Linked DNA regions of Homo sapiens. The protein of the gene in region 3 purifies or fractionates together with the protein of the main gene of each other region. This does not show direct contact. Each region holds a gene or a part of one and is shown on either strand. Other genes may lie near its edges. The genes, in order: TIMELESS, ANTXR1, FCGRT and PCDH10.

What was found.
Region 1: the proteins of FCGRT (region 3) and TIMELESS purify together in Homo sapiens (affinity purification with mass spectrometry; 2 studies listed by BioGRID and IntAct, with this or other methods). This does not show direct contact.
Region 2: the proteins of FCGRT (region 3) and ANTXR1 purify together in Homo sapiens (affinity purification with mass spectrometry; 2 studies listed by BioGRID and IntAct, with this or other methods). This does not show direct contact.
Region 4: the proteins of FCGRT (region 3) and PCDH10 purify together in Homo sapiens (affinity purification with mass spectrometry; 2 studies listed by BioGRID and IntAct, with this or other methods). This does not show direct contact.

What each region holds. Positions count from the first base shown.
Region 1 is NC_000012.12:56,418,403-56,425,426, forward strand, and holds part of TIMELESS (protein timeless homolog), read right to left. Parts: intron 6,751-7,024; coding exon 6,613-6,750; intron 6,512-6,612; coding exon 6,360-6,511; intron 5,493-6,359; coding exon 5,395-5,492; intron 5,306-5,394; coding exon 5,182-5,305; intron 5,074-5,181; coding exon 4,872-5,073; intron 4,591-4,871; coding exon 4,445-4,590; intron 3,790-4,444; coding exon 3,704-3,789; intron 3,615-3,703; coding exon 3,497-3,614; intron 3,408-3,496; coding exon 3,325-3,407; intron 3,092-3,324; coding exon 2,949-3,091; intron 2,733-2,948; coding exon 2,561-2,732; intron 2,480-2,560; coding exon 2,411-2,479; intron 2,286-2,410; coding exon 2,167-2,285; intron 1-2,166. UniProt on the Homo sapiens protein: Plays an important role in the control of DNA replication, maintenance of replication fork stability, maintenance of genome stability throughout normal DNA replication, DNA repair and in the regulation of the circadian clock.
Region 2 is NC_000002.12:69,016,160-69,023,183, reverse strand, and holds part of ANTXR1 (anthrax toxin receptor 1 isoform 1 precursor), read right to left. Parts: intron 1-7,024. UniProt on the Homo sapiens protein: Plays a role in cell attachment and migration. Interacts with extracellular matrix proteins and with the actin cytoskeleton and thereby plays an important role in normal extracellular matrix (ECM) homeostasis.
Region 3 is NC_000019.10:49,515,641-49,522,664, reverse strand, and holds part of FCGRT (IgG receptor FcRn large subunit p51 isoform 1 precursor), read right to left. Parts: intron 6,552-7,024; coding exon of another isoform or gene 6,466-6,551; intron 971-6,465; coding exon of another isoform or gene 852-970; intron 1-851. UniProt on the Homo sapiens protein: Cell surface receptor that transfers passive humoral immunity from the mother to the newborn. Binds to the Fc region of monomeric immunoglobulin gamma and mediates its selective uptake from milk.
Region 4 is NC_000004.12:133,144,798-133,152,306, reverse strand, and holds the start of PCDH10 (protocadherin-10 isoform 1 precursor), read right to left. Parts: upstream 3,014-7,509; 5' UTR 2,167-3,013; coding exon 1-2,166.

The DNA.
Region 1 (7,024 bases), on a different chromosome or scaffold from region 3:
GTTTCCCAGAGTATGATATTCATTGAATATATATGACCCAATATTGGTGAAGATCCACAAGGGTTGTGAACTCTATTTATTATAATACTTACTATCTAATATATACCCAGTGCCTAGCACAGTGCCTGCTACATTAGGAGGTTCCCAGTTATAGGTTTTTTTGGTTGTTCTTTTTTTTTTTTTTTTTTTAAATGAGAAGGGGTCTGCCTCTGTCACTCAGGCTGAAGTGCAGTGGCACAATCATGGTCCACTGTAGTCTCGATCTCTTGGGATCAAGCTATCCTCCTGCCTCAGCCTCTCAAGTAGCCAGGACCACAGGGGTGCATGCCACCATGATGCCCAACTACTTAAAATTTTTTGTAGAGACAGGGTCTTGCTGTGTTGCCCAGGCCAGTCTCAAACGATCCTCCCACCTCAGCCTCCCAAAGTGCTGGGATTACAGGCATGAGCCACTACACCTGGCTATAGTTGTCAATTGAATAAATAAATAAATAAATAAATCCTGGGGATGTAAAGGTGAATCAGGTATGATCCTTGCTATCAAATAACTCACAATCCAATGGGAAAAAGAACAAATGTACTGTAGTATCACAGGATTTTTTTTTTTTTCTTTTTGAGGCAGAGTCTCACTCTGTTGCCCAGGCTAGAGTGCCGTGGCAAAGCAATAAAGGCTCACCCTCCTGGGTTCAAGCAATTCTCCTGCCTCAGCCTCCCAAGTAGGTGGGACTACAGGTGCCTACCACCACACCGGGCTAATTTTTGTATTTTTAGTAGAGACAGGGTTTTGCCATGTTGGCCAGGCTGGTCTTGAACTCCTGACCTCAGGTGATCCGCCTGCCTCAGCCTCCCAAAGTGCTGGGGTTACAGGCGTGAGCCACCATACCCAGCAGATTCCACAGGATTAAGGCTGCATCAGGGGCATGAACAAATCACAGCTGCAAAAGTGATTATTTTTACTTCAGGGGTTGAAAGAATGACAAGGACTGCTTCTCTGACAAGGTGACAATTGAGCAGACTCTTGAAGACTGGGTAGAGGTCCATCAGTAAGACAGATGGAGTGTGTGTGTGTGTGTGTGTGTGTGTGTCACCCTGTGTGCACGGTTGCAGCCTTCCAATAGAGGGACTGGCATGATTAACCATTTGGAGGCATGAAAAAGCCTACCAGGGTGACTATGATGTAAAGTCGGTGTGTGAGTGGTGTGGCTGTGAGGCTGCAAAGGTTGGCCAAGGATGGGGATGCCATTTGGAGTTTGTGGATTCTGTCCTGCAAGCAGTAAGGAACCATCAATGGCTCTGGACAGAGGACTTGACCCTCCATATCCACAAGTTCTGAGTCTGTGGATTCAAACCACTGTAGATCGACAATATTAAAAAAAAATAACAATACAACATTAAACAATAATACACAGCCTGGGCAACATGGCATAACCCCATCTCTACAAAAAATACAAAAAATTAGCTGGGAGTGGTAATATAGGCCTGTAGTCCCAGCTACTCAGGAGGCTGAGGTGGGAGGATCACCTGAGTCTGGGAGGTTGAGGCGACAGTGAGCTGAGACTGAGCCACTGCACTCCAGCCTGGGTGATGGAGTGAGACTCTGTCTCAAAAAAAAAAAAAAAAAAAAAAAATATATATATATATATATATGTGTGTGTGTGTGTGTGTGTGTATATATATATATATAAATAAAATGTATATATATATATTTACAATACAGTATAACAATTATTTACCTAACATTTACATTGTATAGGTATTATATGTAATCTAGAAATGACGAAGTATACAGGTTGTACCTAGGTTATTTACAAATACTACAAAAAGGGACTTCAGCATCTATAGATTTTGGTATCTGTGGGCAGGGGGGTCCTGGAACCAATCCCCTCTCAGACACTAAGGGACAACTGTAATCAAGACTATATTTTAAAAAGATAAATCTGGAGGCAGTCTGGAAGATGGATCTAGGGGAAGGGGAGATTAGAGAGAGGAAAAGAAGACTAGCAGAATGGCTGCTGCAGGAATCTTGGTCAGAGATGACAAGACAATGAGAAGGACCAAGATGACGATAAGGATAAGGAGGACCACCATGACAGTGAGGAGGAGGAGGAGATGTATTTGGAAATAGGACTAACACGCCTTGGTTGACACTGTAACTGACATATTTACCTGCCCAGAGGCAGGGGGCCGAACCCCTAGCTTGCGCAACAGCTGCTGAAACTGTTCGTTTTCCATGGCTTCCTCATTTTCCTCTGTGAGTGGCACCAATGGAACGGCCTGGGAGCAGCCTAAGACAGGGTCAATAGTCATATGGTGAAGATATAAGGGAAGAACTGGTTCTCCATCCCATGACCAGGTAGGTCTCCAATAGCCTCCAGGGCTCTTCTCCTAAAAGTGTCACCTGTCCACTCACCATCCTCTTCCCGATCATCAGCTGCTCGGATCAGGCAGTTCTGGAGCCATAGGAGCGGGATAGAAAAGCCTAAGGAAATGAGGGAAACTTACATTTGACCCTACTCCCAAGCCCTCCACCTGAGACATCTCTCCCAGCCAAAGTCCTCACCTTCCTGATGCAGGCTTTGACCAAGGTTTTCATTTGAAAGGACTAAGCTACCCTGGACTTGTTCTGCTTCTGAGCCCCCTTCTTCTTCCTCTTCGCTGTCTTCCTCAGGCAGGTTTTCCTCTTCTTCCAGATCTTCCTGGCAAAAATCTTTCAGGGACTCCGCTCCATTTGGCTAAAATTCATTGGGGGTTGGGGGAATGAAAATGAAGGCAACACAAGGAACTTAGTGGAGTCTCCTCGTTCCTGACCACCGCACCCCCCCGCGCCTGCTCTCTCGGAAGGACCTGGTCAGAACAGCCTCAGGCAGGAAGAATCCAGGTGGACTGCTCCTAAGGACCACTTCAAGGGAAGTGAGCCCATGCCAGCAGAGCTAGGGTCAGATTGTTACCAAGATGGAGGATGCCAACTTTTTCTGCCGTTTCTTGTACAGCTCCCGCCGCTCAGCCACCAGCCCCAGAGCCAAGAGTTTATCCACTATTCGGGCCCGTGAGCGTTTGGCTGTGATATTCTTCATGATATGACCCAGGACATCTATAAAAAGCAAGCATGTGAATACCCAAGGGTAACAGGGAAAGAGATGAGTAAAATAAATCAGAGGTCTCTGGAAAGAGGGTACCTCAATTCATCCAAAAATGACACTTACAAATATAGTAAGTGAACAGAAGGGATGGGAGAATCTTTCCTTGGGAATAAAAGGCAGCCCCAAAATAAATGGATAGCTTGGCTTTCATCTCAAAGGTCCCCTGAGTTTCCAGCTTACTCACCATCTGAGTCCCGGAATTCCTCAAAAAGCCGCTGCAGCTCCAACTCCTGATCCCCCGTCCACAGTACAATATGGGTTCCTTTCCTGATTAGGAAGGTGTCAGTGGAAGAGGAAGCCCAGGAAGTGATCACGAGTCCCCATCCCAATAGCCTCCAGAGCATGTGCCTCTCTACCTTTGGAAGTCCTTGACACTGTCAGCCAGTCCCATCTGTACCAGATGGTGGATGATCTGCTTGCGTGTTCGAGGAACAGTATTCAGGTGGGCCAAGATGGCTTCCACCACATCCTGCCCTGGCGTGGGGAAGGACTAAGGCAGTAAAGAAGGTCCCACAGCTCAAGCTGCCCTCCTCATAAACTCTCCAGATCCCAAGGCCTCTCACCTTCCACGTCCTTATTGGCGAGGTACAGCTCCCGAAGATGAGCCTCTTCTTCGGGGCTCCATGTAGGTGCTCTGCGACTGGAAGACCTGAATGGTGAAAGGAGAAAGGGAGCATATAGGTTCTTGGCCCAAAAAGAGGAGACCAAAGGCCTTCTCTGATCAGTTCTGAAAAGAACAGGAAGGACAAGGCAGGTAACTGAAAGAGGCCAGCCAGCAGAGGCCTACAGTGTGCCTCCTTCCCCTCACTTTCCTTCCACGTAAGAACCTAAAAGTCAAACTAAGAGATTTTCCAGGTTGGGCCAATGGAACCCTGACCATTCTGACTCTAGGGACTGAGAATATTATGGGAAAAAGAGACTAAGTGTGAAAGGAGAGGGGCTGAGATACTAAGGGAAAGAGGACAAACATTTCTACAAATCCTCATGGTTTCCCAGCACATTTTGGGAGAGGTCGCACACAGACTCCCTCTGGGCAACCACCCAGCTCCCAACAGTGACTACCTCTATGGAGGCTGGTGATGGAGAAGGAAACTAGATACACACTAGACTTAGGCTCCAGTCCCTGCTCCTCTCTTGGATAACTTTAGGTAAAGCATTTCACCTCCTGAGCCTGTTCTCTCACCCATAATAGGGAAAGAAACAGTGGGCTAAATGACATGCAAGCTCTTAACAGCTTTGACATTCTGTGACTCTGCATCAAACTTCCCCTACCCCCACCCACCCTTTGCCAACTTCAAGCTCACCTGTCATCCAGGGAGCCATAGCCCTCAGTCATCTCTCGAACCACAGCTGTGTTCTTCCAGAACAACAGCTCCACAAAGGCTTTTTGGTTGACTGCAGCCAGTGCAAAAAATTTGCCCAGGATGTATTTGGCAAAAGTCACTAGCTCCTGTAGGAGAAGGAGGTTACTATGAGGCCTCTCTGGTCCAATGCAGACCCGAACCTGGCCCTCTAGGTATTTTCTCTATAGCTGTTCCCAGCTGCCCCCTCCTCACTCACTCTCTTCTGTCCTTCTCCATGCAGCTCCCTCAACCTGCCTGTCTACTTTCTCATTGTTTTCCCATCTCCCAGCCCTTGACACCTCTCAGCACCTTCTATCTCCTGAAGATTATTTATTTACCTGAGGGTTCCCATACCCTTCCAGAACCCCATTCCTTGTTATCCCCTCACTTTGTAGGCTCCAGCAGCAGGGTCACTAAGCAGACGATTGAAGAGGCAGAAGACTGACAGCTGAAAAAGTAGGGCTTCCATTTTGAGGTCATGGGCCAGCCGGTGCAGCATCTTCACAATGCAATGGTTAGTGTGGGCACTATTCTGCTGGTAGCTCCTTAGTAGCAGCACATAGGCTCGAACGACAGTTGAACATGCAAAGCTGCACCAAAACAAGGAGGGAGAGGATGTCAGCATAAGGAAGACATAGCTCATCCTCACAGCCGCACAATCGCCACTCTAGGACCAACTCAGGCCTCTCAGCCCGCACCGTTTCAGGTAGTCCAGAAAATTAAATTCTTTCTCCGACACCTGGACCACTTGCAACTCCTCCTCTTCCTCCTCCTCCTCCTCTTCTTCTTCCTCTGCCCCACGTTCCTCTGGGCCCTGCTGCCCTATAGACAGAGGGAGGATTACTGAGTCTCTGTTATGTTGGTGCTAGAAAAGAGCTGGAAGGAGACAGATGTGAAGGGTGGAGACTCACGGGGAAGTGGAGCAGAGAGGATTTGTTTCAGCAACTGGATCTCTTCCTCTGGAGAAATGTCTTGAGAGCCAAACACATCTCCTTCAGGCCACACCTCCCTGGAGCACAGATAGAAAAAAGGCTTTACCCAGGGGAAATCTGGCTTTAAATTTATAATTCGAAGTAGAAGAAGGAATTTAGACTTATTTCTTTTGTTGGCCAGAAACAGAATGCAAACTGTTACCTCAAATGAAACAAAGACTCCAGGGAAAATTTTCCTCATAAGCCACAATTCAATAAAAACCAGCTAAGAACAAAATGCAAACAATCTAAATGTTTGACACCTGGTTGAACAAATGTACATATTCACACAATGGTGTTTTAAAGCCATTAACAATTACAGAAATATATCTGATGAGAAATCATGCTCATAATATACTGAGAAGTGAAAAATTACTATAAATCAGCATGTACAGTATTTCATTTTTGTAAAACAAGGTATATACGATATTTTTACATGTAACGGAGCAAAAAAACCTCTGGATGGTTACTCATCAAAATGTTAATGATGCATATCTTTGGCTACTAGAATTAAAGTTAAGTCCGCCCTTAATGTCTTCAATAGGTTCTTGGATACTGCCACTTTAAGTGAAACAATGTATAACAAAACCAGTTTTTTTTCTCTTAACGTTATAAGAAACATGCCGTAGGTCATTTTACTCAAAGCTGCAATTACCAAGGACTTATTGATGATGTCAAGTGAGGATTTGCTTTCTTTATTTTTTTCTCAATTAACTATGCTTTTTTAATGTTTTTCAGAAACAAAAAAACCCAACAAACCAATCAAAACGCCCCAGGAGTCAGTTGGTATACAGTCCCAGAGCCTTGATGAGACAACTCTCTTTTGAAGACTGAGAACACTGTACCGCAGTGATGGCCTCCTCCTTCCCCCAAAGCCCAAGAGGATGAGCAGGCAGGGTTCTTACCGAGCAGACCTCAGGAGAGTCAGGGCCTGTGGGGCCTGGCCAGCCAGGAGACAGTCTTGGATCCGTACCATAGCTTCTGCCCGCTGCTCCTCCACTGGCACCTCTGAGGCCGCATCAAAGGGAACCACGGAGTCCATGCTGAGCTCAGAATTCTAGAGATGGATAAAGCTATGGGAGCGGAGGGAGTGGAAAACCCAGATTGTATACCCTGAGCACTATTCTCAAAAAAGACAGGGTTTCTGTAACCACCTACCTGGGCACAGCACTGTAGCTGCTCAGCCAGGGCTGGCCACACAGCCTCCACTTCTTCTGGGCTAGATGGGACATTACCAGAAACAATGGCCTGGTCTAGGACCTTCTTCTTCTTCTTCCTTCTCTTCTTTTGTTTGTTCTGTGGGGAAAGAATTGTATTAGGATGTCAAGAGAGCTAAAGAGGGCTTTCCCCATCAGTGTCTTTTCTATTACAAAACTAATTAACTGGACATTCACAGAGTGCCCATTATCTGCTATCCATCGGTAATAGAAAGCAATAGTGAACAGCATATTTCCTTCCCTTTGAGGAGCTTTTACTCTAGTGGTGGAGACAGGAAGTAGAAAGGTAATTACACTAGAGTGTGGATAAAAGCTATAATGTGAGTGAGCATAAGATGTCATGGCAAAACTCC
Region 2 (7,024 bases), on a different chromosome or scaffold from region 3:
ATTTTAATGCCTATTTTATTAACAATACTGAAGTTCGGAGAGGCTAAATAATTTGCCCAAGGTCACAATGCTTGCTGAAGCATTGAGCTGATATTTAAAGCTGCAGATGCCTGATTCCGAAGGTGGCCTTCTTAAGCCCTGTGTTAAGCATTCCCATGAGGCACATTTCATGTAGGGAGACTTATGAGAAAGGAAGCAAAGGAGTGTCCTGGCTAGTAAACAACATGGCTTAAATGTATATGTACACACAGCAGGACCTGGCAACACTGAAGGGCAAAACATGGCCTCTCAGTGACCTTTGCTCTTCTGCCTTCATATTGTGTGTGGTTTCTTCTGCCACCATCTAAAATAAGAGCTCTGCCTATAGCCCAGCTCCAAGGTGTGTGCTGCCTCAGCTATATCCTCATCATAAGGCCATAACCATGAGCCATCATTATGGGGCAACTTTTCTTGTCTTCCTGTTCAGTCTTATGACTCACTGAGGGAGGGACCTGAATCAGAATCACCTGGGAAGCTTTTCCAAAATACACGTCTGCCTCAGGCCTCTGAAGTTGTGATCTGGCCCTTGGTTGAGAACCTCAGTTTAGCATATTCATTCCCAAGGTCTACAATTTCCACTGGAGCTTTTATCATGGAAGCTTCCCAATTTCTTCCTTCAGACAAATGCCCAGATGTGGTTCTTGGATGCTAGGAATCAACATCAATGGCATACCCTGCTCTGCCCTGCCTTCTTTTAGTCAGGAGTTCTCAACCAAGGTGGTACCAACCTTAGAAATAAGTATAGAGGCTGTTATTTATTGGTCATCACAATGACCAGAAAGGCTAATGGTATTTAGAAAGCAAGGATGAGGAATGCTAAAGCATCCCACAGTCCATCACAATGAAACACCGTCCCATCAAAAATGCTAACAGCACCCTCATTGAGAAGCACTAGTAGGAGCCCAGATACTCTTGATTCAAACTCAGAATCAGCCCCTGCAGTGTACAGGCATCCTCTGAGCTCTGCTGCTGCAGTGGTCTGTGTTCCATGGGCTGCTGTCTTTCCCCAGCCTTTCAAATTCCCTCGTATTCCATAAACTATGGAAAAAGAGAGTTTTATCTTTCAAATATATTCATGTAATACTTAGGTGGCAGGAGAGCATGTCTAATCTCCATTTCTACTTTCCATTTAATCTAATTTAATCCCCCGCCCACCTCACTGAATATTTCATCTAAAGTATGCAGAGAATGGGGAAGGGAGGAAAAGAGAAGGAGCTATCATTGCCTCTTGGGCATATTTGAAACATCACGTCTGACAGTAATTCTAGGTTGATGAATGCTGTATATCCAAGACTTGGCTCAAAACTGACCTTTCTCCAGAAGTCTTATCTCTTTATTCTCTCTCAATGGCTACTTCTTTCTTGCTTATTCAAGCCAAAGCAAGCTATAATTATACGTTTTCAGTAGAAGCTTTTATTGTCCACCCATATCTGGCTTTCCCTTCCATCTAGGCACATGGAGGATTATTCTTCAAGTCTTTTTCCATAAAGTGAGGCTATCTGACCAGTTCTGACCAACAGGCTGTGAGGAGAAGGATGCACGTCACTTCTGGCTGGAGCATTTCATGGCCAGCAAGACATCATCTAGCATTCTCTTCCCTCGCAGCCTTGATGGTGGCAGGAGGTATCAGGAAGGAATCTCCACCAGCCTGGCTCCCAGAACCATCACCATAAGAAGAGCCCTGCTGACTCCTATCAGACATGTAGTATATGCAGAGAATAAAACTTTTGTTGTTTTGTGTAACTGAGATTCGGGGGTTATTTGTTATCACAGCATAACCTGACCTACCTTGATTGATTCAATGTTCTTTTGCATATTTAGATTCTTTTTAACTTTGTGCATAGATTATGAGTCAGAGGGGCTTGGGTTTGAGACTTAGTTTCACCATTCAGAGTGACCTTGGGTAACCTCTCTAAACCTCGGTCTCCTCACGTGTGAAATGGTAATGATGACTGTACAGACCTTATGGGGGTTGTAAACACTAAACAGGGTCATACAGGCAAAGTGTTTACTATAGCGTCTGGCAGGTAGCAAGGGTTCAGTAAATGTTACTTCTTATTTCTTACTGATCTAAAATTGACTTTACTTGGCCCCTTTCCCAAATCCTCACTGAAGCCTTTAGCTCTGGCTGCCTAGAGTCCTCTAACTTTTCTCCATAAAAACCTGACAGCCTGGGACTTCTTCCTGTTTATTTTGCATTCCTTTTACCTCCCATAGCAGGACATTGCTTGCAATAGGCATTGTTTCATCCACGCATGTATTGGAGTACACACTTGTGATCAAAACTGAGTATGTCATCTATGCCAAATGAATGGAAGAATCTGCTGAGTCAAATTGGAGAAATCTAATTACTTTTTCAGTATGAACCTGACGTGTCTGAAAAACGTGTCAACAAATGTTTAAATATTCTCTTTGTCTTTTATTGCAGAGTAATCAGGGGGAGAGGCAAGATCCAGTCTCTTGGCCGCATACCAAACATAGACACACATTCTAAATTAGCATAGAGCAAATCCCATTTGCATTTATGTGACAGCCAAGTCTCCCTAATTGATCCCAGAATTTGTTTCTGGACCACTAGGAATCCTTTAGCATTTGGACATAATTACAGGTTATCTTGGGACAGGTGCCTTCCTCCAACACTCCTTGACACTGAGTTTAACCAGGTCTCCACAGCTAAATAAAGTAGAGGTAGTTACTTGGCTGACCCAGACAGAAACACAAAACAAAACAAAACAAAACAAAACAAAACAGTTTTGCCTTATTTATTTTTATTTTTGACCCATATGCCAAACTATCCAATTTGCAGGCAGTTCTACCAACTCTTGCCTGGCCTCAAAGGCCTTCTCCAAATGTGGAACTTAATTAGAGGAGCATTTAAAACCAAGCATTAAGTCCACCTCAATACAAAAATAATAATAATAAAAGAAATTCCTGGCCCCTGATAACTATTTTTCTGATGCCCTTTAAAATTATTATTGTAAAAGATAGTGTGGCAATTCCTCAAAGACCTAAAGACAGAAATACCATTCGACCCACCAATCACTTTACTGAGAATATACCCAAAGGAATATAAATTGTTCTATTATAAAGATACATGCATGCATATGTTCACTGCAGCACTATTCACAATAGCAAAGACATGAAATCAACCTAAATGCACATCAATGATAAATTAGACAAAGCAAATGTGGTATATATACACCATGGCATTTTATGTAGCTATAAAAAAGGAGATGATGTTCTTTGCAGGAACATGGGTGGAGCTGGAGGCTGTTATCCTTAGAAAACTAATGCACAAACAGAAAACCAAATACCGCATGTTCTCACTTGTTAAGTGGGAGCTAAACAATGAGAACACATGGACACATAGAGGGGAACAACAGACACTGGGGCCTGTCGGAGGGTGGAAGGTGACAGGAGGGAGAGGATCAGGAAAAATAACTAATGGGTACTAGGCTTGATACCTCGGTGATGAAATAATCTGTACAACAAAACTCCATGACACATTCTTATGTAATTTCTTTTTTTTAACATCTTTTATTTTAAGTTCAGGGGTACATATGCAGGATGCGCAGGTTTGTATGTACCCCTGAACTTAAAAGTTGAAAAAAAGAAATTAGAGTATGAAATGAGAAAAGAGGAGATAAAATTGTTATTTGCAGGTTATATAATTATATATCCAGAAAACCCAAGAGAATCAACTAGGAAATTATTTGAAACAGTAAAATAATTCACAACAAAATCAACACAGATACTTATACTCTTTATATGTCTAAGAGCAAACAAGTTAAAATGGAAGAAAATTTCCCATTACAATAACCAAAATGATCAAATACTTAGGAATGAAATTAACAATAAATATACAAGACTTATACGAATTAAAATCCAAAAATATAAAAAATATCTGATTGTAGCACCTTCAAGGTGCCTTCTATTGAACTCTTTGCTTTCCTTATTCAGAGCCAATTTTGCAGACACTAAGCCATCTTCCAATGTATTTCTGAAAATAAGCTACATCTGTGTGTTTTAGCATATTTACAGACTTCAGTTTCCTTTTTCTATCAGATTCAGTCTGAACAAATTACGAATTTATCATAATAAAATGTCCTGAACACACCTTAAAGTCTGACTCATCAATTAACCCCCTAGATCTCTGGAGCATTTCTCTGGGTTGCAGGGGGTTGGAGTTCCTGATACTTTCCATCAACTACAGCTGATTTAACAGCAGAGTAGTAGCTCCTCAATTAAGTAACTTTAATCGCCTTATGCACCATGATTTACTGAAACTCTGATGCGGGGATTTTGAATTCCTGGAATCTACCCAGTTCCTCTAGTTGTATTGCCATGTGCTTCTCATTATGGCCCAACTCTACAGGGAAGATGAGTGGAAAGAGCTGGTCTGGGAGTCAAGGGCAGACACTGTCCTAGCTCTGTCGTGATCTAATCCTAGGTCCTTGGGCAAGTCACTTAACCCAGTGGACTGAACAAAGGTTTTCTTATCTTCAAATTAGGGACAGTCATGCTTCGCCCTACCTACCAAACAAGGTTGTCTTTGGGACCCTTGTGAGAGAGCATGAGTCTGCAAGACTCACACAAGTTCCCAATCCAGTATTTCTTTTGTAAGTTAGTAGTTGGGAACTCAGAAGATATTTTCCCAGAAAAAAGCCAGTACTATACCTGATGGGGAAATTTCCAGCCTAATGCTACAAAAATCTATCTGATGATCCTGTCCCTGGAGTACAACACATAACAGTGGTCCTGCAAATCAGCACCAGCAGGGCATCATCCAGGTGTGGGTGCTGTGGTTGGAACTCTGGGGGAGTGGCAACATGGAATCCCTTTGTACAGTGGAAGAAAAAGAAAACTGGTGCCGAACAGAAGGGAAATGGCAGGGGGAGTCGGAGGTCTTACGGGGAAGGAGCACATGGTGAGCCTGTGGGGGGCCTTTAGACATATAAGGATTTATTAGGTGCAGAAAATGAATGACAGGCTGTGGCTTTGGCAAGTCCTATAAATAAAGCTGCTCAGCGTTTACTCCTGCCTTCCAGACCACCATCTCCACTCCTCCTGCTCTCTTTCCCACATTCTATTTTTGAAGTCTTCAGGGCACACATAACATAGCCAGCCACTTGAGATTCATGATGCAGAATCCACTATCTCCATTCAAGTGACTAATAGCTCCATGTAAAATAGTCCAATATGTAATACATAAACATATACGTAATAAGAGAGGGTGGGGGGGTGCTGTGAGAGAGGGAAGGTAGTTATGTCTGTGGGTTGGTCAAATGGGTGCATTCATCTTGGAAGATCCCCTGGAAGACTTAAAAGAGGCTAGCTGTTTCTTTGCTTTTTGTTGAACAGAGCCTTCCAAATCTAACTTTTCAAATCCCCGACTGAATTCCCAGCAATCTATTTTTCCTGACTATAACCAGAAAAGCATGTTTAAGTGAACATGAAATTCCATCAGTATAAAGCCTTGTGCAGCCCAGTCCACCAGCCCAGTCGCCAAAGCCACTAATAATGCCCTATTGTGTTACTGTGGTATTTTCTAGGTTATCATTATGAAGTCTTTGCTCCTGGTTGAGAAAACATGACGTTCCATTAAATGTATAATCTGGGTTCCCTCCAGGCCAGAGATGCAGCTTGCTTAAAGCTGAAATGAGCTGAGATTTAATGTCATGGGAAAAGAGAACCAGTTGCAGGGGAAGAAGGAGTTGCAGGGATTGGGAGAAGAATGGTGGATTCAGTCCCCTATGATCCCTCGGTTTCAGACTGTAGACAGTGTCTTGCCAGCGAAAGGATCTAAGAAGCCCAAGGAAAAAATGAGTCAGCATTTTTTCACTTTCCACTCTGGCTGTGGTTGGGTGCTGGACAGCACTGTGTGAGGAGGTTCTCTCTAGGACAGAAGATCATGTCTTTAGCGACCACCCAGGGGTCTGTTTGCCACCACTGCGTTTTGGCCCATCCCCTAGCTCTGGACTCATCAATCTCATAAATTAGCCTGGATGGAGGTGGTAAGCTGGTGGAGTGTGCACTACCGCACCAAGTTCTAGCAAGTTTTTCATTCAGCACAAAAATATCCTTCTCTTCCAGCAACAGAACAGCTAAAGGAAGTCAGAGGCATCCACCTGAATGTCTGTAAAGGTCTCCCCACCATTTCTTTTCCTGGAGCATTTTTGGGTCTCCAATGTGCTTCATAGAATCCTATGATGCACTCAGACATTTACTCCAGGATTAAATATAAAAGCAGCAGCATCCTTTACAACAGCAAGGGGCTTGGAAGTGAGCACACTGTTTAGAGACCCACTTGACATGATTTTCAAAACAAATTCAAAATAACTTATTTTTGTTGAATATAAAAGTAATGTATGTTCAGTACAGAAAAATTAAGAAAAACATGTAAACAAAATTTAAAATTCTACCTGCTAGAGACAAATAGTAGTACCATATTGGTAAATAGAGACATACACATGTGTGTGTTTAACTTTTTAAACAGGTGGAATCATAACGCAGATGACGTTTGGTAATTGCATTTCCATCTAAAAGTGTATAGTATGTTAAGAATTATGTATTTCTCCTAAAATAGCTTACAAGCTTGTATAACATGCAATGCAGGTTCAATACTATACACATATCATACCTTAGTAAATCCACTGCTGTTAGACACATGTAATCCTCAGCTTTTTATTATAAACAGCACCTCCATAAACATACATGTAGGTACTTCTTTGTGACTATTTGGATTTTTTTTCTTTAGGACATGAAATTGCTCGATGGAAAGGAACACCCCTCATTTTTTAAAAGCATTTTATATGTGTCGCCAAATTATCTTCTTGTCTGCACTATCCGGTATGGTAGCCACATGTGGCTATTAAAGTTCAAATTAGTTAAACTTATATAAAATTAAAAATTCACTTCCTCAATCGCACTAACTACATTTCAAGTGCTCGAGTCACATATGGCTAGTAGCTACTGTATTGAACTG
Region 3 (7,024 bases):
GTCAGGAGGTCGAGACCAGCCTGACCAACATGGTGAAATCCCATCTCTACTAAAAATACAAAAAAATTAGCCAGGCATGGTGGCGTGTACCTGTAATCCCAGCTACTCAGGAGGCTAAGGCAGGAGAATCGCTTGAACCCAGAAGGCGGAGGTTGCATTGAGCCAAGATTGCACCATTGCACTCCAGCCTGGGCGACAGAGCAAGACTGTCTCAAAAAAAATAAAAAATTAAAAATTTTAAAAAATTTAAAAAAAGATTCAGAACTCTTAAACATAATATTAGCAGACAGGCTGGGTGCAGTGGCTCACTCCTACAATCCCAGCGCTTTGGGAGAATGAGGTGGATCACTTGAACCCAGGAGTTGGAGACCAGCCTGGGCAAACAGTAAGACGTAGTCTCCACTACAAATAAAAAAAATTAGCCAGTGTGGTGGATGTGCCTGTGGTCCCACCTACTCTGGAGACTGAGGCAGGAGGAATCCTTGAGCCCAGGAGTTTGAGGCTGGAGTGAGTTATGATCACACCTGGGTATAGCCACTGCACTCCAGCCTGGGCGACAGAGCAAGACTCCGTCTAAAAAAAAAAAAAAAAATTCATAAACTTTATAAAATGTATAAATTGAAGTCGATAAACTGAACTTCACTGAAATTAAGAATTTTTGTTCATCCAAAGGTTTCGTTAAGGGAATGAAAAAAGGTTGGGTGCAGTGGTTCATGCCTGTAATCCCAGCACTTTGGGAAGCTGAGGCAGGAGGATCACTGGAAGCCGGGAGTTCAAGACCAGCCTGGGCAACATGGAGAAACCCCGTCTCTGAAAAAGTTTAAAAATTAACTACGTGTGATGGTACACACCTGTGGCCCCATCCATTCAGGAAGGGTAAGGTGGGAGGATCGCTTGAGCTTGGGAGGTTGAGGCTGCAGTGAACTCTAATCCCGCTACTGCACTCCAGTCTAGGCAACAGTGCAAGTGCCTGTCTCAAAGAAAAAAAAAAAAAAAAGCCGGGTGCAATGGCTCATGCCTGCAATTCCAGCACTTGGGAGGTCAAGGCAGAAGGATCCTTACGCCCAGGCTTTCTTTTCCTTTTTTTTTTTTTTTTTTTGAGACGGAGTCTCTGTCGCCCAGGCTGGAGTACAGTGGCACAATCTTGGGTCACTGCAACCTCCGCCTCCTGGGGTCAAGCGATTCTCCTGCCTCAGCCTCCAGAGTAGCTGGGATTACAGGCGCACACCACCACGCCCAGCTAATTTTTCTATTTTTAGTAGAAACAGGGTTTCACCATATTGGCCAGGCTGGTCTTGAACTCCTGACCTCGTGATCCGCCTGCCTCAGCCTCCCAAAGTGCTGGGATTACAGGCGTGAGTCACTGTGCCCGGCCAAGCCCAGGACTTCTAGACCAGCCTTGGCAACAAATACCCCATCTCTACAAAAAATAGAAAATGTTAGCCAGGCATGGTGACGTGTACCTATAGTCCCAGCTACTTGTAAGGCTGAGGCGGGAGGATCTCTTGAGCTTGGGAGTCCAAGGCTACATGGCGCTATGACTGTGCCACTGCACTCCACTCCAGTCTGGGCGACAGAGCAAGATCCCAGCTCAAAAAAGAAAATAAAAGGCAAAGATTTCAGCAACTGCCTAGGACTGGGCATTACTGCCCAAGTTCCTTTCAGGGAGGGTGGATCTGGGCAATCGTGGGTCTTGGCTGGGATCTTGGTTTTGGTTGCTCAGCAGAAAACACATTTGCTGCTTCAGGAAAGCACAGCAGCTTCTCCCTCCTGGAGCTGCCTCTCTGGCAAGTCGGCAGAATTTGCTGCACCGTCAGGTGGAATGGAGGGACCGGGCTGACGGCCATCAGCAGTTCTGGCTTCTGCTTTATGTTCACTATTCTTTTCAGCAAATCTGTATCTTCCTGTGTCGTGCTCACAGCCACGTGCCTTCAGCCTCAAGGTACTTCCAATATAGACTAAATCCAAGCACAGAAAATCTGTCTGGCCTTTGGTTCTGTTTAACAAAATACCAAACCAGGTCAGGCATGGTGGCTCACGTCTGTAACCCCAGCACTTTGGGAGGCTGAGGCAGGCAGATCACCTGATGTCAGGAGTTCAAGACCAGCTTCGCCAACATGGTGAAACTCCATCTCTACTAAACATATAAAAATTAGCTAGGCATGGCAGCGCATGCCTGTAGTCCCAGCTACCCTGGAGGCTGAGGCAGGAGGATCACTTGAATCCAGGAGGCGGAGGTTGCAGTGAGCTGAGATCATGCCATTGTACTCCAGCCTGCGCAATAAGAGTGAAACTCCATCTCAAAAAAAAAAAAAAAATCCATCCTGGCCAACATGGTGAAACCCTGTCTGTACTAAAAATACAAAAATTAGCTGGGTGTGGTGGTGTGTGCCTGTAATTCCAGCTACTAAGGAGGCTGAGGCAGGAGGATCACTTGAACCTGGGAGGTGGAGGTTGCAGTGAGCCGAGATCGTGCTACTGCACTCCAGCCTGGTGACAGAGGGAGACGCCCTCTCAAAAAAAAAAAAAAAAAAGCCCGGGCGCGGTGGCTCACGCCTGTAATCCCAGCACTTTGGGAGGCCGAGGCAAGTGGATCACAAGGTCAGGAGTTCAAGACCAGCCTGCCCAACATAGTGAAACCCCATCTCTCCAAAAAAAATACAAAAATTAGCCAGGCATGGTGGCACGCACCTGTAATCCCAGCTACTCAGGAGGCTGAGGCAGCAGAATCGCTTGAACCTGGGAGGCGGAGGTTGCAGTGAGCCAAGATCGCAACACTGCACTCCAGCCTGGGCGACAGAGCAAGACTCCATCTCAAAAAAAAAAAAAAAAAAAAAAGATTAAGGCAATGGCCATTGCTATCCGCTAAAACCATCAGGAGAAAACCTGACAAAGAACTTCATAACAACACCCGAATCCAGTGGTCCACAGAACAGCACAGAAGCAAGCAGATGTTTGCAGCCTATGCACACAGACATACGCACCAACTACCCAGAAAGTTTTCTTGCCATAAAAATTGAACCAGAATCTGACCAAGCTTCTAGATGGAGCTGCTCCTTTAAAGAAGAGAAGGAGGACTATTTCCAGCAACATCACAGGATGCAAAGGGCAAAATCCAGTCTAGGAGAAACTCAATAGGACATAAACTGACTTTCTTCAAACCACAATTACAGGGGGAAAAAAAACAAAAAGAAAATGGGAAACCTGTAAATCAAAAGACACTCAAGATCACAAGTAACTCAAATTACCTGAAAATGAATCACAGACCTAACTGTAAAATGCAAAACTTTAAAACTCTTAAAATACACAGGAGAAGATCTAGCTGACTTTGGGTTTGGTGATTACTTCTGAGATTAAACACCAAAAGCATAATCCACGATAGAAAAAAAAAAAAGAATAAACTGGATTTCATCAAAGTTAAAAACTTTTGCTTTGTGAAAGGCACAGTTAAAACAATGAAAAGACAACCTAGAGAGTGGAAGAAATATTTGCAAAACACCTATCTGGTAAAAAATTGGAATCCGGCCGGGCGCGGTGGCTCAAGCCTGTAATCCCAGTACTTTGGGAGGCTGAGGCAGGCGGATCAGGAGGTCAGGAGATCGAGACCATCCTGCCTAACACAGTGAAACTCTGTCTCTACTAAAAATACAAAAAATTAGCCGGGCGTGGTGGTGGGCGCCTGTAGTCCCAGCCACTCGGGAGGCTGAGGCAGGAGAATTGGTGCAACTTGGGAGGTGGAGGTTGCAATGAGCTGAGATCGCGCCACTGCACCCCAGCCTGGGTGACAGAGCGAGACTCCGTCTCCAAAAAAAAGAAAAAAACAAAAATACGGCCGAGCGCGGTGGCTCACGCCTGTAATCCCAGCACTTTGGGAGGCCGAGGTGGGTGGATCACCTGGGGTCGGGAGTTCGAAACCAGCCTGGCCAACATGGTGAAACTCTGTCTCTACTAAAGATACAAAAAATTAGCAGGGCGTGGTGGCTTGCGCCTGTAATCCCAGCTACTTGGGACGCTGAGGCAGGAGAATTGCTTGAACCCGGGAGGCAGAAGTTGCAGTGAGCCGAGTTCGTGCCTCTGCACTCCAGTCTGGGCGACAGAGTAAGACTTTGTCTCAAAAAACAAACAAACAAAAATAGCTAGGCCTGATGGCGTGCACCTGTGGTCCTACCTACTGGGGAGGCTGAAGTGGGAGAATTACTTGAGCCCAGGAAGTTCAGACTGCAGTGAGCTATGATTGCACCACTGGACTCCAGTCTGGTGACAGAGCAAGACCCTGTCTCAAAAAGGAAAAAAAAAAAAAAAAAGAAAGAAAGAAAAATTCAACAATCAGAAAAAGACACTGAAAAGACAACAAAATGTGTGGACCTTGCTGGATGCTGATTCAAACTTTAAAAAACATTTACAGTCAGGAATATGGGAACAAAAACTGGACATCTGATGCCATTAAAGAGTTAATTGGTTGTAGGTGTGATGATGGTTTTGGTATTAATTTTTTTTAAATGCCCTTACCTAGTAGAGTTACATACTAAAGGACTTATCAACAAAACAGTCTGGCTGGGCACGGTGACTCCCGCACTTTGGGAGGCTGAGGAGGGCAGATCACTTGAGGTGGAGGGTTCGAGACCAGCCTGGCCAACATAGTGAAATCCCGTCTCTACTAAAAATACAAAAATTGGCCAGGCGCGGTGGCTTATGCCTGTAATCCCAGCACTTTGGGAGGCCAAGGTGGGTGGATCACGAGGTCAGGAGTTCAAGACCAGCCTGGCCAATATGGTGAAACCTCATCTCTACTAAAAATACAAAAATTGGCTGGGCGAGGTGGCGGGCACCTGTAATCCCAGCTACTCAGGAGGCTGAGGCAGGAGAATTGTTTGAACCTGGGAGGCGAAGCTTGCAGTGAGCCGAGACTGAGCCACTACACTCCCGCATGACAGAGTGAGACTCCATCTCAAAATACAAACAAACAAAGAAAAAAACACTGTGATGTCTGAGATTTACCAAAGCTTGATGTGAAGTGGGGTGGGGAAGTGAGTGAGGATGTGCGTGAAATTCAAAAAACCATGGGTTGATAATTATTAAGTCTCAGTGATGGGATGCTCGCTTCCTTCCTTCCTTCCTTCCTTTCCTTCCTCTTTCTCTCTCCCTCTCCTCTCTCTTTCTTTCCTTCTTTCTTTGAGACAGAGTCTTGCTTTGTTGCCCAGGCTGGAGTGCAGTGGCTTGATCTCGGCTCACTGCAACCTCTGCTTCCCGGGATCAAGTGATTCTCCTGCCTCAGCCTCCCGAATAGCTGGAATTACAAGCACCCACCACCGCACCCGGCTAATTTTTGTATGTTTAGTAGAGATGGGGTTTCACTCTGTTGGCCAGGCTTATCTCAAACTCCTGACCTTAAGTGATCTGCCCACCTCGGCCTCCCAAAGTGTTGGAATTACAGGCGTGAGCCACTGCACCTGGCCACCATATTTTTTTTCTTTTTGAGACAGGGTCTGGCTCTGTCATCTGGGCTGGAGTGCAGAGTTGCAATCAGTTCACTACAGCCTCAAACTCCTGAGCTCAAGCGATCCTCCTGCCATAGCCTCCCCAGTGGCTGGGACTAGAGGCACATACCACCATGCCAGGCTAATTTTTTGAGTTTTTAGTAGAGATGCGGTCTTACTATGTTGCCCAGGCTGGTCTTGAACTCCTGGGATCAAGCAATCCACCTGCCTCGGCCTCCCAAAGTTCTGGGATTATAGGCGTGAGCCACCGTGTCTGGTCCGTTTTATACTATTGTTTCTACTTAAGTGTGGTTTGAAACTTTCCCTCCTTAAGCCAGGAGTGGTGGCTCATGCCTGTAATCCCAGCACTTTGGGAGGCCAAGGTAGGCAGATCACGAGATCAGGAGTTCGAGACCAGCCTGGCCAGCATGGTGAAGCCCCCGTCTCTACTAAAAATACAAAAATTAGCCAGGCATGGTGGTGTGTGCCTGTAATCCCAGCTACTCGGGAGGCTGAGGTAGGAGAATTGCTTGAACCTGGGAGGCGGAGGTTGCAGTGAGCCAAGATTGCGCCACAGTACTGCAGTCTGGGCGACAGTGCAAGAGTCTGTCTCAAAAACAACAACAACAACAACAAAGGCCAGGAGCAGTGGCTCACGTCTGTAATTCCAGCACTTTGGGAGGCCGAGGCAGGCAGATCACGAGGTCAAAAGATCGAGACCATCCCGGCCAACATGGTAAAACCCTGTCTTTACTAAAAAAAAAAAAACAAACAAAAATTAGCCAGGCGTGGTGGTGCACGCCTGTAGTCCCAGCTACTCGGGAGGCTGAGGCAGGAGAATCACTTGAACCTGGGAGGCGGAGGTTGCAGTGAGCCGAGATCGCGCCATTGCACTCCAGCCTGGGCGACAAGAGCGAAACTCTGTCTCAAAAAAAGAAAGAAATTTTCCCTACTTAGGAAAGAAAGAAGACAATTAAAGAAAAACTACCTGGTTGAGTCTCAACTTCTCCTTTGTGGCACTTGGAATGAATATCTGTGCACATCCCCAGCTGGTATCTATCTTTGTCCAGCAGCCTGGGAGCCACAGAGGGTGAATGTGTGTCACTTCCCTCTTTGCTCAAGGCCCAGAGCAGCGCCTGGCAGTGCAAATGCTCTTGGCCAACAGTTGAATGAGTGGGGATCTGGGGGCCTCCGGGGAGGAAACAGTGAACTCTGCCCTACAGAGCTGAGGAAAGGCTTCTCAGAGGAAGTGATATCCAGCCCTGACCTTGAAGAATAAGGAGGGCTGGAGTATATGCAGAGAGGGGGAAGGGTGGAACAGAGAGGTGCCAGGGGAAACTGGATGAGCAAATGCCCAGAGGGAGGAGATTGCTTATGTTGGGTGGCTGGAGCGTAGACTCTGATGGCTGCGTAGAGACAAGTGCTGCTGCGTGGGTCTGATGAGGACATTAAGGCAAGGAAGGCCAAGCACAGTGGCTCACACCTGTCATCCCAGCACCCTGGGAGGCCAAAGTGAGAGAATCACTTGAGGCCAGGAGTTTGAGTCT
Region 4 (7,509 bases), on a different chromosome or scaffold from region 3:
CAACGCGATGATGAGGATGAGGGTGAGGTCTAGCGAGGTTTCCCCGCCGCCAGAGCGACTGGGGCGCTGGTGCTCTCCTGACCCTCCGCCTCCGCTCCCGCCCCCGCCCTGGGGCTCCACGGCGCCATCCACCAGCTGAACCACCAGGGTGGCGGTGGAGGAAAGGGGCGGCTGCCCATGGTCGCGCACCTCGATCACCAGCTCATAAGGCCGCTGGGGGTCGCGCTTGGCCGGGACTCGGCGTGCTGTGCGCAGCTCCCCGGTGCGCCAGTCCATGCGAAAGAGGTTCATTTCGTTGCCACGCACGATGCTGTAAGTGAGCCGGGCGTTCTCGCCGTCGTCCGCGTCCACGGCGGCCACGCGGGTGAGCAGGTAACCCGGCTCCGCCGAGCGGGGCAGCACCTCACGCGCTGGAGTCCCGTTGCGCCCTGGTAGAGGCGCCACGATGGCAGGGGCGTTGTCATTTTGATCCACTATGAGGATGTTGACAGTGGCGTTACCAGCCAGCGCCTGGGGGCTGCCAGCGTCCCGGGCTTCCACCTGAAAACTGAAGTCCTTCAGCTGCTCATAGTCGAAGGAGCGCAGGGCGTACAAGTAGCCGTTCTCAGAGTTGATAGAAACGTAGGTGAAGACGCTCATGCCCTGGATCTGGCACTCGAGGATAGAGTAGGCAAGCTGGGCGTTGGCGCCCTCATCCCGGTCGGTGGCGCTCACCGCGTAGATGTAGGCGCCAGGCACGTTGTTTTCAGTCACATACACGTCGTAGACCGGCTGGCTGAAACGCGGCGCGTTGTCGTTCACATCCGACACTTGTACCTGGATCGACTTACTGGTGGAGAGCGCAGGCTCGCCCCGGTCCCGAGCCACTACAGTCAGGGTGTAGGAGTCCCCCGCCTCTCGGTCCAGGGGGGCTTCGGTAACGATGGTGTAGTAATTCTTAAAGGAAGACTTGAGGCGGAAAGGCACGTCTCCCAGTAGCTCGCACTGCACCTGCCCATTCTCCTCTGAGTCGCGGTCAGTCACGCTGAAAAGGGCCACCACAGTGCCGGGCGCCGCGCCCTCACTCACCGCTTCCTTCACGGTGCTGAAGCTGATCTCTGGCGCGTTGTCATTAGCATCCAGTACTCGCACTAGCACCTTGCAGTGCGCAGGCACGGCGTTGGGGCCCAGGTCCTTGGCTTGCACGTACACTTGGTACACTGGGCTCTCTTCATAGTCCAACTCGCCGCTTACCTCCAGTCTGCCAGTGCGCGGCGAGAGTCCGAAAAGCTCCCGCGCCCGGGGCGAAATGTGGCTGCTGAAGGAGTACACGACCTCACCGTTCTGGCCCTCGTCCGGGTCGGTGGCGTTGAGCTGGATCACGAGAGTGCCTGGGGGAGAGTTCTCTGGTAGGGACACAGTGTAGACGGGTTGGTCGAAAGCGGGCACATTGTCATTGGAGTCCAGCACTCGGATGGTGAGTAGGGCCGTGCCGGTGCGCTGCTGCTGGGGGGGCAGGCCTGCTCCCCCGCCACCTCCCCCTCCTTCTCCTACTCCTCCCCCACCTCCTCCGTCCACCGCGGTCAGCACGTAGCGGTGCACCGCTTGCTGCTCTCGGTCCAGTGGCTTCTCCAGCACCAGCTCAGCGAATCGGTTGCCATCCCCCTGGGTCTGCACGTCCAGGGAGAAGTAGCTGTTGGGGGTGATCTCGTAGTCGCGCAAGGAGTTGGTGCCCACGTCTGGGTCGAATGCGCTCTCCAAGGGGAAGCGAGTGCCTGGCGTGGCGCTCTCAGAGATTTCCACCGTCAGGTCTGGCTCCGGGAAAGAGGGGGGGTTGTCATTAATGTCCAGCACCTCGATCTCCACCTGGAACAGCTCCAGGGGGTTCTCCAGAAAGACCTCCAGGTGCAGGACACAGGAGGGGCTCTGTTTGCAGATTTGTTCGCGGTCTATTTTCTCGTTCACGTACAGCACCCCTGTCTCCAGGTTGAGGTCTAAGTAAGGGGTCCTTGAGTTGGGCACCGTCTGAAACCCGCGAGCCGAAAGTTTTGTAATGTCCAGACCCAGATCTTCAGCGATATTCCCCACGAAAGTGCCATGTTCCTGCTCCTCCTGTACCGTGTAGTGAAGCTGGGAAAAGACTCCTTCCACCATCCAGAGCAAGGCAAACAATAATAGCACAATCATCTCCAAAAGGAAAGGAAGTAGCTTCCCGCAGCCAGTCAGCCACCCAATCACCTCCCCCACCACCACGAAACAAAAAAAAATCTGAAAAAATACAAATAAAAGTGCGCTACGTGGGGGCTCCTGTGGCTTTCTGTCTTTAAAAATCTTACTCCTTTTGCTTCATTTTAGAGCTTCCCGCAATCCAGCCTCATTTTTTTTTAAATCTTAGCACAGGAAGGGTGACAGGCGTCCCCTTTCCTCATCTGTAATCTTTCCACTGACTAATTAATAAAATAACAATAATACAATAGTCAGCGTCCTTTATTCCGACAGTCTTGGCGCTGGCAAATCCCAAAGAGGAAATTTCGATATTTCAAGACTGTCCTCGGTTTGTCTTCTTGCTGATGGGAGGAGAACGAGGAGGAGGAAAAAGAGGAGGAGGAGGAGGAAGAAGAAGAAGAGGAAGAGGAGAAGGAAAAGGAGATGCTGTTGGCACCGTTAAACATGCCTCTTAATGTCAACGGCTGGCAAATGCAAAAGGGCTTAAAATCAGCGATATAATTTTGTGCCGGAAAAGCACAGAACGGCTCTGCAGCTTAAAACTTTCATTCTCTTCATTTCTCCGGATGGATGTTCTTCTTGACATTTTTTTCCTCTTTCGCTCTATTTGTATTTTTTGTCTTTCAGAGTCTTGGTTCCCTCTGTCCTCATCTCCACCGTTACTTGCCTCTCTGTAAGTGTAATGAGCAGTTTCTTTTCTGCTGTTTTCTTCCCAAGCCTCTTTCCCTCTAACCTGTCTCTTTTTCCTTCCAGTCCTTCCTTCCTCCTGCTTCAGCCTCTGAGCCTGTGGTCTGGGCTGGCAGTTTCTGAGCTCCGAGCGCTCGGCTTCTCCGTTTTTGCGCAGCGCCCTCATTCTGCCAACCAATCGCCCAGGAGCACCACCCACCGAGCTGCCGATGATTGGCCAAACTGGCCGCCAAACAGACACGTCACGCGGCAGCCGGGCGGGGCGGGACAGAACTCTCGCCCGAGCGGCCGGGGTGAGTGTGAGTGTGAGAGCGAGAACAGCCCCGCAGGTCCCGAGGCGCTGGCTGGGGACAATGCCGCGGAAAGTTCCCAGTCCCCAGCCGCAGGTAATGGGGAGGGAATAGAGAGGTTCCCCTGTTTGCATCAGCAAATGCGAAAACATAATAGCAACAGCTGCGATATCCTCTCCTAGGAGCGGGATTTCCAATGATGCTAACATTCTTTTTCCTTTAAGGTATTTTCCCTAATACGCATCATGGAAATAAATCATCGAGAAGGGAAAAAGTAGCGCAGGGCCCACTAATTGGCAAGGGTTACCTAATTAAGGGACCCTAGCAGAGACTGGCAGGGCATTTTAAAAGTGAGTATTATATGGCATGTGTCAATCTAAAGGTGAGGGGGTCTGACGGGGCCGTGAGGAAAGGCGCGAAGCATACGGAGTAGGGGGTGGAGGTGACTCCTAAAAAGCGGAGGAATTCACGCTAAAGGATGTGGGGATGACAGCGCTTACAGACGGGCAGACGCGTTCGACGTGCTTCTTTCCTCCCAAAATACATATTCACAAAATACTTACCAAGTAGATTAACTCACTCGAGGACCTAGCTTCGAGCCGTGAGCGCGTTCATCAGTGACTGAGGAGTTGATTTGAGCCGCTTCCTACAAGCCCGCCATCCTAACGCCGGGCTCTGGGGCATCCGGCACACAGCACCGCCAAGCGCTGCAAAGCGCCTCTGATATCCCTGCGCCTTGTGCGGCCAAGTGCCACGCAGCGGCTGGGAACACCGGCTATTTTCTATTTTTTTTTTGGCAATTGGAGATCGATCCCTTTACCCACCATGCTAGATTAGACCACTGATTTCTGCCAATCCTGGGGTCAGCCCGCGGGATGAGGACAGTGGGGCGGCGGCGAACGCGGGCGGGGTGGTGGGCAGGGCCCGTGCACACGAGGGGCCCGAGTGTGCACCGCTGCGGGTATCTGCGAACACGTTTGCACATGCACGGTACTTGCATCCATCCTCCCTGGCCCAGGGCTTAGCTCTGTGTAAGCCCCAACGGAGCCTCCCCGAGTTCCGAAGGACGCGCTTGACCAGCTGTGAGTGCCCCTTCCGGAGGCGCAGGGGCAACGCGGCACATCCACATAGCTAGTTCTTGTGAAGTTAAAACACAGCGCGAACTCTTTAATGCTGGAGAGTGGATAGAATGCCAGTTCTCTAAGGAAAGATCTATAAATATATATTTTTAATTAATGGGCCACTAGCAAGGAATTGGTTGTTTATTCACGAAAGAAGCCCCTATTCAATCTCCTTTTTATGCAAAGAGATAGGAAGGTCCTTTGCTGCTTTCTGGTAATGAATGACCCAAGAATACACCACCACAACCTGCGGGAAAAGTAGAGTCGTTTTCCGACCTGGAGATACGTTGCCATTTCCTCCTGGCAAGGAGTTAAGGAGGGCTAGTGTCCATGGGCGTGATAGTAGCCTGAGACGTGCTTCTGAGAGTCCCGCGAATGCACGTCTACTGCCCTGATTTCCGCGCCCCAACTCCCCGCAACGCCGGGTCCCCCCGGCCCCCGCACTTGGCTCTTTCATGAAGATGGGTCCTGCCTTTGAGCGCTTAGAAGGAAAGGATTCCAGCAAAAATGGCTAATCCTTTTCCAGCTGCAGTAAATTGAAGACTGGCCAAAGCCAAGCGAAAACCGCTGCAGTTAAAATGATTTTAGCATCACGTCTGCGGCTGAGAATGGAGCGGCAGTGTATAAAGGGACCTGTGGATCAATGAAAAGGAGATTATAGTGTATCTGAATATTAATACGGTATTGCATCTGTACTTCCACCCCTCCCCCCTTTCTTTTTCTTCAGATCTGCAGAATTGAAATGAAATGTTTTGAGCTCTTCAAGCTGACTCGTCAGAATCCTGGAGCCTTTTAAAAAATGACGGTAATTTTCTAATGCGTTCATTTGTACGTATGGAAACACTTGTGTGTGTGCGCGCGAGTGCGCGCGTGTTTGCATGTGGGAGACATGCAGCTGAATGACAATGCAGATCCAGAAACTGGGGAAGAGGGTTTCTACCCCTGAAATGTAGATGAAGTTTGAGCTGACTTGGGGCATATGCTGAAAGCCAGAGAGCTTCCAGAGGTGGAGATGAGATGGCCAGATTTGCCTGTAAATAATCACTACATCCACTGTAACACTTGAGCTGCTTTTATTTTTTTTTATTTTTTATTTTTATTTTTGGTAGCAGATGTGTTTGAATGGAACTCTCTCCGCAAACGTGGGTTACAGGCGTCTCCTAGCGGCGAAATCAGCATAGGGCAGGCCAGAGAATTTTGCTTTGGAGAGCTCGCCTTTTGGGGGCTCTACAAGATTTCTTGGGTCATAGGGGTCTGTGTCCGCACCAGCGTCGCTGAGCCCAGGCCCCCTAGAGGTCTCGCCTCTCCGACTTCTAGTCTTTGTGGCGCCAGCCAGGGACCGGCGGAGTGACGGTAGGGTCTTCTTCCCGGCCGAACAGAACAGAGCCTGGTCCTCCGCCTCCCGCTAGATAGCTCCAGCCAAGGGCAATTCCAAGAGCATTTTGTTTGGAGCCAAGATCAGATAGTGGCATTAATAGCCTTCTATGCCCCTTTACCCTAGAGCCTTTAAAACAACCATGCCCCGTCACCCACAAAACAAAACAACACTTTAAATTTGCCTTTTAAAATGCCTCTAAAATGTAACAGGTTTACTTTTTCCCTTGCTGTGTCAATCAAACAGATCCCTGCCTTTCGTTTTTCTTTTTCATTCTTACTCCCGTGGACCCCAGAATTTAGTGAGATGAGGTTTGTATATACGGCAGCCTCAGTAATGAGGCTGACTACCTCTTTGAAGTGTAGAGCATCATGTATATTCTGTGTTCCTCAATCCCCCCGTTACTGGAGCGGAAAAGGAGAAGGAAATATTTTGTACGTAATCCCTTCTTCACCCTCCCCCGTCCACCCCCTAGGAGCGCAAACTGTTTGAGCCAGGACAAACTGCACCCTAAGAAACAGAGGAATAGTTTTATTATTTGGAGGGAGGTTATCAAAATCAGTTTTCATAAAAGTCCTGGTTTATATATTAGAGTGATAGTGCACATTTTTTATTTCATTGGGCTTTAAGTGCAGCAGAAACAGGGGGGCGCTAAGGATCCCACAAGTGTGTTTTACAAACTTTGAAACTGGGTTAAGGGATTGCTTTCTTCTCTGCCCTTTGCTGCAAAGGGTGGGGCAGAAACAAGTTTGTTAACCAGCCTTTGGATAAATGAGTGTTTGCAGTGATTTAACATGACTTGAAAGCAATTTGTTTCTAAATCCTCTTATTATTGCTATGTGCCCAGAGCTTTGAGGGAAGTTTTTTTTTTTTTTTTTTTTAGAATTGGAAGGAAAAATTACTTTATCAATAACCAGGCTCCACCAGGATTGACCTAGATGGTTGTTCCTGGCACTTGTCATTCTCAGCAAGCACAGCTCAGAGAACAAATACAAAAGACCCAAAGTGCATTGCATCTTTTATGGGTAAGCATGAAATAGGTTTATTTGTGGTAGTGTAATCTAACTTAAGAGGTGGGAAGACAAGGCTTTGGAACCAATGCCACAAACATTGTGTTAGTTTTTGTTCATCTATAGTAAAAAGTGAATGCTGACTGGAATTTCTGGGAAAGATTTATAGCATATGCAATTTTAAGTATTCAGGTAACTCTTTAGTTACTGTGTTTTAATCCTTCAAGCCCATCAGAGAACAAACCAATCCTTGTTCTTGGGATTGAAAATACTAGATATCCCATCAAGCACCATTATCTTGATATTGAAAGTAGAAATGTGCTTCTCCATTTTGTTTAACCTAGTTAATATTGGGGTGGCTTCACATTTCAGTGCCTTTTCAGTTATCAAGCAGGGACAACATTTTGTTAAACTCTAAACAGTGAATTAAAAGCACTGAATGAGCTGAAGCAGCCCTCTAATGCAAAATGACAAATTGCACTTAAGCAATACATGAACAAAAAATGATTTATGGATTTTTACAATGGTCTGAGCAAATGAAAGCAACATGAATTATACATCCTAATGCTCACAATATCATTTTCTAATAATACTGTTTCAGTTCAGATACTATACTCTGCTCCTTTCTGTAAGAGAAATTGATCAATAAGAGGTCCAGGAATGTTTTTAAATTGGGCACTGGTTTGTGATACTGATTCCAAAGTGTGTGTGTGTGTGTGTGTGTGTGTGTATACATATGCATATATATATGTGTGTGTGTGCATATATTTTCTTTTGGTTTTGGGGAGGTGGGTTGATGACAGACATTGAACATGCATTCT